2 linked regions of the Homo sapiens genome follow. The protein of the gene in region 2 interacts with the protein of the main gene of each other region in a biochemical or structural test. Each region holds a gene or a part of one and is shown on either strand. Other genes may lie near its edges.

Region 1 (3,749 bases), on a different chromosome or scaffold from region 2:
GAGGGGAGCCTGAGGCCTGGAAGGAGAAGGACCACTTGCCCAAACTGTTCATAGGCAAGGCAGGGGGCCTGGGTTCTGGCTAGTCTTTGTGTTTCCTACTCTGTGACCTTTGCGCCTCTCCCAGCCTGTGTCTTGGTCTACAACACGGGGACAGCCATCACCCACCAGGTCCCTGGGCAGAAGTGAGGAGGTGTCAGCTGCCCCCTGCAGTGCTTGGTCTTCATGCATTGAGCACCTGAGTTGTATATAGCTGCACAGATGGGTAAACTGAGACCCTGAGCGGGAATAACAACCATATTGGGTCAGAGGGCACCCAACACCAGACACGCACAAGTGATCATAGCAGGAACCAGTTTATTGGTTGAGGTGGTGGGGAACAGGGGGGTTGGAGGCACACCATGAGGAGCGAGGGCTCAGCTCTCCCCAGGGCCCTGGAAATCCATGCCCTCCACCAAGTCCTGCAGGTAGGCCTTGTACTGGTCGGAGGTGAGGGAGAGTGGGTGGCTGTTGGAAATGTGCAGGTCCACAGTATTCTCCAGGGAGGAGGCACCCCCTACCCGGGCCATTTCTACCAAGGCCCTGAGGCACGTGGGCACAACCTGCAGGGGAAGTGGGGACAGGAGTCAGGGAAAACACCCAGCCACTGTCCACCAAGGTAGGAGTCAGGGCTTGGAGGACTACAACTCCCTGCAGCCCCTGCTGTAACCTAGGATGAACCATAGGCCTAGGGCTGCTGGGAGTTGTAGTTTTACACACACACACACACACACACACACACACACACACACACACACCCCCTGCTGTAACTGAACCATAGGCCTAGGGCTGCTGGGAGTTGTAGTTTTACACACACACACAAACACACACACACACACACGTCAGGGCTGAGCAGTCTGTGATCTTGACTCCTGGGAGCCACAGCCATGGCCTCACAATGGCAGCTAAAACTTGAGTCCACCAGCTTCTACATGGTTTAGAGCAGGGGTCCCCAACCCCCCTACGGCTTGTTAGGGACCAGGTTGCACAGCAGGATGTGAGCAGCGGGTGGGGGAATATTACTGCCTGAGCTCTGCCTTCTGTGAGATCAGCGGCAGCATTAGATTCTCAGAGGAGCACAAACTCTATCGAACTGCGCACGTGAGGGATCGGCTGCTCCTTAAGAGAATCTAATGCCTGATGATCTGCAGTGGAGCAGTTTCATCCCGAAACCACACCTCCCTGTCCGTGGAAATATTATCTTCCATGAGACTGGTCCCTGGTGCCAAATAGTTTGGGGGCCACTGGTTTAGAGAGTTCAAAACAGGTTCTGCAGGTGAGGCCATGGGAAGGAGCTCCCGGGGATGAAAAACTGGTTATTGCAGAGATCTTGGAAGTTGCAGTTTTTTAGAGGGCCCTCTGGGAGTTGGAGTTCCTGGGAGCAACCTCTTCCCTCTGTAAGGCCACCCCTTTCAGCCCCAGGGACTCAGGTCTGCAGGCACCTTGACCATCACGAGCCTCTTGGTCCACGGCTGGTCCTGGGGCCATGACTCCCCCACACAGAACCAGAGGGCATAGCGTGGTGAGCGTCCGCTTCCTTCCGTGAAGGTAATCAGATCTGGGGGCCCAGGAGCCTAGTCAGGGATGAGAAGAGGACCCTCTACCCACCCTTCCCCGTAAACTTGAATGATAACCCCCACCACCTCCCCTGACCTAAGGCCCTCTGCTGCCTCGACCAGGGGACTGCTTGTTTGGGGAAAGTCCCCTCCTTCCCTCCCTCCCTCCCTCCCATCAGGGTGGGGTTGTTGGAAGGCCACACCCCCAAGCCCCCAAGCCTCAGCATTCATAACAGGCCCAGAGTAGGGGGCCCATGCTCCCAAGGATGCTCAGTGAATCTGGAGAAGCTGGTTGGCATTCAGTCCTGTCTGAGGCTGCATTGTCCAATTGCAGCCATTAGTCATGTAAGGTTATTTCAGTTTAAATTGTAACCAATTAAAACGAATCACGTCCTGGTTGCACTCGCCTCACCTGAGTGCTTGGCCCCTGTGGCTAGTGGCTGCTGCACCGGACAGTGCAGGTGACTGTCATTTCCATCATGGCAGAAAGTGCCACTGCACAGCGAAACCCTAAGGGATGTAGCTTTCCTGCTATTGGTCTGTTCACCATCATTAGTTACGATGATGATGACAGTGGCAGCTAATTCCCTGAGCAGGCTCTGTGTACTGGGCCTGTGTCTCACCCCAGCGCTGGCAGGCAGGTAGAGAGAGGAGACCATCCTTGGATTCCACGGGCTCAGGGCAAAGTCCTTTGCCTCGGTTATACAGCGGGCCAAGGGCAGCCAGCGTCTGAATTCAGTCCTAATCATGAGTTCTTTTTTTTTTGTTGTTCGAGATGGAGTCTTACTCTGTCACCAGGCTAGAGTGCAGTGGTGCGATCTCAGCTCACTGCAATCTCCGCCTCCTGGGTTCAAGCAATTCTCCTGCCTCAGCCTCCCGAGTAGCTGGGATTACAGGCACGTGCCACCACGCCCGACTATTTTTTTGTATCTTTAGTAGAGATGGGGTTTCACTATGTTGACCAGGCTGGTCTCGAACTCCTGAACTTGTCATCTGCCCACCTCAGCCTCCCAAAGTGCTGGGACTACAGGCGTGAGCCACCGTGCCCGGCCAATCCTGAGTTGTTAACCACTGTGCAGGCTGCTTTGTACTGGCCAGGTCGAAGCCCCTGTCTCACTCACCTACAATGAAGGGCCCCAGGTCAAACACGCCTCCTTCCTTGTCCTTGGGGACCTCGCCATCAGGCCCATGCCCGCTGTTGGGGAGCAGCTCCTCGCTCACTGCCCAGTATGTGTGGCAGTGCCCCAGCCGCTGGGCCCAGAGCCACTGCCCGGCCCGCCAGAGAGCCAGTCCCCCACCCAGGCAGCTCAGCACATGCCTCACGTAGCTCATCACTCCCCTGTCTGTCAGGGACATGCCAGGGTCTGGCAGTGTGACTGGCCATCCAGGCAGCGTCCTGTCTCCCACTTCGGACCCCACCAGCCGCAGGCCCTCCGGGCAGGAGATGGTCTGCTGGAAGACTTGGCGGCCCCGGTAGAAGGCTGTCACCTCGAACTCCCACTCTGAGCAGCGGCAGCAGCGGCATGAAGGGGAGAGGGGTTGAGAATCAGGGGCTGCCGCCCAGACCTCAGCCCTCCCAGCCTGCAGCTGACACTCACCTTCCCCCGGCACCAACAGCCGCTTCAGTGGGTTCTCAGAGGGCCCCAGGTTTGGGAAGGGAGTGGGATTGTCCAAGCTGGGGCTCCGCAGGGGCTGAGGGCAGGGCTCAGGGGCTACAGCCAGGCTTGGGGGTCCCGGATCTGGGAGTGGGGCCAACACCATGTTACCCAGTAACTCATCCAGAATGTCTTCCTGGAGGGAAACAAAAAAAGAGAATCAGGCATTTCCATATCCTTTTCTGGAGACTTCATATGGACCAGGTCTGTTCTCAGCAACGCAGGGAGGTCAGGCTTGAGCTCTGCCTTCAAGGGGCTTCCAGCCTGGGGACAGAGCCAGCCATGGCATCAACAGCCAAACAAACACTAATGAACGCCAGGTGCTACCATTCCAACCCAAGGATCTGGCTCTATGCAGGTAAGACCTGGGCAAAGCAGGCTGGGTAGAATTTCAGAGGGGATGCTCCCCCAGCTTGGGCCTCAGCAGGATCAAGGTGAGGGAGTTTTTCAGTTCCCAAGAGGCTGACAGCCCCCTGCGAATCGAAATCCATGAAATCCCGGG
Region 2 (3,556 bases):
TATGCACACGGGAAGATGTCCACGGGCCCCATTCCCCAGTGCAATCTCACCCAGCAGCCACCCATTCTCTCTATGCACACTGGAAGATATCCATAGGGCCCCCCCATTCCCCAGTACAATCCCACCCAGCAGCTACCCGTCCTCTCTATGCACACGGGAAGATGTCCACAAGCCCCATTCCCCAGTGCAATCTCACCCAGCAGCCACCCATTCTCTCTATGCACATGGGAAGATATCCATAGCGCCCCCCCATTCCCCAGTACAATCCCACCCAGCAGTCACCCGTCCTCTCTATGCACACAGGAAGATGTCCACGGGCCCCATTCCCCAGTGCAATCTCACCCAGCAGTCACCCATTCTCTCTATGCACACTGGAAGATATCCATAGGGCCCCCCCATTCCCCAGTACAATCCCACCCAGCAGCCACCTGTCCTCTCTATGCACACGGGAAGATGTCCACAAGCCCCATTCCCCAGTGCAATCTCGCCCAGTGGCCACCCGTCCTCTCTATGCACATGGGAAGATGTCCACTGCCTTTCAAATAGGTTCTCCCCATCTGGAACGCTCTCCCCTTCCTGCCACCTGCCCTGAGCACCTCCCACCACTTAACCCACCAACTTTAGACCAAAGGTGACAGTCTGCTTCTTCCCCGGCCTCGCTGAAGAATCCTATCGCCCGGATATCCGTCAGTATACAGGACTCATTCCTATTGATTCATCATTATTAATCTACGTCACTAGTTAACATGGCTAGTTAATGTGATTAACGTGCACTAGTTACACAAGTTAACATGCACGAACAGAGTGCCCTGTGCCTTCATTATTTCATGTTGCTGTCAGCACTAAGAGTTCGGGGCCACACAGACCCTCGGACGCCACTGGGTTTTGCCCACAGTCTCTCCCCGGGTCACAGCACGAGACAGAGGCGATGTTCGTATGCAGTTGCCTCCTCAGAAGGACTCCAAGAGATGCTGGCATTTCTTATGAAATAAGCGTCTTACATAGAAAGATGGCTGCTGTCACAGAAATACTAATGGACTTTGGTGCCAGGCCCCAATCGGTGTGGCCTTAGGCAAGCCACATAACCCCAGACAGCTCCGGCAACCCACTGGGAAGCTCTAGAAGGAAGAACCCAGAGCAGGTCTGGAGAGACAGGGAGAGACGGCCCTGAAAGAGAGAGGTGTGTGGCCCGGGCCTGGGGGTCCCAACACCCCGCAGGGTGCTCATGGGGATGGAGACTGGGTGCAGCCACCACTCATCCTTGGTTTCTCGTGGGAGCAGGAACCCTTTCTAACAACAACCCCAACCTGACTTTAAATTAACCAGTTCCACCTCCTACAGACCTGTGGACCACAGAAACACATCCAGGTGTGAGATGCTGCCGTCAGCGTGGGCCCCCATGTTGCCGCCTTTGGCCCTGGTCATCTCGTCCGTCAAGAGGGCCAGCGTCTGTCCTTGGGGGTCACGGTCAGGCGGTCCCCCTGCTCTTCACAGCCACTGTCTGGCCTCAAGGGTCAGTTATTCCTGAAGACGAATGGGGACAGCTGTGTGTGCTGGAAGTAGGGCCTCACCCAAAGAGGGCTCAGATGTGGAGAATGTGACACCGGGAGAGCTCAGGTCACCCTGTTCTTCCCACCGCACACATCTCCAAGCCAGAGAGGTCTGCTCGGTGTCCCAGACCCCGGGTGCCCACACCCAGGCTCATATACCCATTCACCCTGGGCACCGAGGGACCTGGTTTTGAGGAAAAGGACATAGTTGGCCAGCAGTGGGCACCCTGGGGCTGGCATCAAGGAGGCTAGAACTGTGGGAACCTACTGCGAGGTAAGGGGCTGGAAGAGCTGGGAGCCTGCACCTGCTCTGGACCTGGATCTGCCAGTCCTCGACTCTCCTGGAGGCCTCAAGTGACAGGCAAGGCCCCATCAGCACTGCCCAAAGTCCCGTCCATCACACACCACCCTCAGGACACTTTCGCCAGAACCGCCTCCACCCCAGACTGTTATTTATTCCACGATTTTCTTCAAGGCCCCTTTTATTTTGAAAGATCTGTTTTTTAAAAGAAAACTGCAGCCTTGCCCCAGTGGGGACCATGTCTGCATCAGAAGGAAAGTCGGCAGGTGCGCATCGGGGCACACTCCTGCAGCTAGGGGGCTGCTGTCTCTGCTCAGCACGGGGAGGCCGGTGCCTGGGTGGCCCCAGGCCTCAGCAGCATGAGCTTTTGCTCCTCACCTTCCACCAGACGGCTGGGAAGGGAGTTGAGTGCGGACTGAGCTATTTGCCGCCTCCTCCAGGCTCCACTTGAAATCGTCCTTTGCAGGTGGTCATTGTCCTTCTTTCAGGATAACCCAAGGTCCCCCAGCCCTGGGGCCATGGGCGTCCAGCTAATTGGGCATCTTCCCTTTTCTCTCTCTAGGCCGGCCGAGCGAGGCCCTGGGACCGTGACCTGCAGGGGCAGTTGCCACCTGGGGTGGGTGGGAGGGGGAACAGTGGCCTTTCTGGAGCTGGCGCTGCCTTCCAAGGAGCCCTGCTCCCAAGGAACAGACACGGTGGCTGTGCCCTCCCAGGTACCTGCAGGCAGCTCCCTCTCGTGGGCTGACCCAGCGGAAGCCCTTTGTTCCTTGAAGCTCACCCGCTGGTTAGTCCTGGATTCTAGCTGGACTCATTCTTCCCCTTTTGGCAGATCAATCAGTGTCAAGAACTTTGGTCCTGCAGAGTCATTTTTCTTTGTTCAGGCATGTTCTCCCAACCACAGTCTTTGTCCCAATCTGGATGGAGCAATTATGAAGTCTGTATTTCAGTCCAGAAGCTGCCCGAATCCTCACATGCCAGTGGGATGTCATTCATTCTTTGCATCCATAATTGTGCATGATAGAAATTTAATTATCGCCAGCCCCAGCCCAAGGCACTGCATGCCCGATTTCAAGCTGAATAGAGGTAGATAATATCCCAAGACTCTTTAAAGGTGGCAATGGCCGGTTACCAGGCAGCCAGGAGCCCAGCTATAAATAAACCTCCGCTGGCCCTAACCAGCTGTGCTGTAGACCACGTGGCGCTCCATGAATTGGATTGGGTGGTTCTGAGCAGGAGAGATTTAATGGAACCGTTCCGAGGGAAGGCTTTGGAGACTCGCAGGCATCGTTCTCCATTACAACAATATTTCTGGGCTCACGTTTAATAGTAAGATGAATGACTTGAGATTAAAGTGAGCACCCAGGGGCCGGACAGCTGAGGGGACAGAACTCAGAGCCTGGAGCACGCAGGTGCTAATCTCGGACAAGCCTCCTGCCCTAAGAGCCTTGGTTTCCCTCGCTGTGGAGCGGTGGTTGGAAGGCAGGGCTGGCCTTTGAAGGCTACCCCTGTTCTTGGTTGCAGGACCTGTCTAGGGGCACCAGGCTCTAAACCTGCCTGATTGGCTTGGCCACGCCAAGGGCCTAGCCAGAGGCTGCTATCTCAAGCAGCTGGGTCTTCACCCAGATCCTCCAACTGGAAGTTCGTACTCAGAAGGGCCCTCGGAACAGCCGTGGCTGAGTCAGGCCAGCCAGGCAGCAGCAAGCGG

Evidence for each region. The genes of interacting proteins can lie anywhere in the genome.
Region 1: of the proteins of FAM20C (region 2) and IRF3, one has a biochemical effect on the other in vitro, tested with the Homo sapiens proteins (one large-scale study listed by IntAct).

What each region holds. Positions count from the first base shown.
Region 1 is NC_000019.10:49,659,235-49,662,983, forward strand, and holds the end of IRF3 (interferon regulatory factor 3), read right to left. Parts: intron 3,384-3,749; coding exon 3,191-3,383; intron 3,095-3,190; coding exon 2,714-3,094; exon of another isoform or gene 2,216-2,713; intron 1,611-2,215; coding exon of another isoform or gene 1,595-1,610; coding exon 1,479-1,594; intron 600-1,478; coding exon 414-599; coding exon of another isoform or gene 355-413; 3' UTR 338-354; downstream 1-337.
Region 2 is NC_000007.14:199,142-202,697, reverse strand, and holds part of FAM20C (extracellular serine/threonine protein kinase FAM20C precursor), read right to left. Parts: exon of another isoform or gene 2,015-3,556; intron 1-2,014. UniProt on the Homo sapiens protein: Golgi serine/threonine protein kinase that phosphorylates secretory pathway proteins within Ser-x-Glu/pSer motifs and plays a key role in biomineralization of bones and teeth.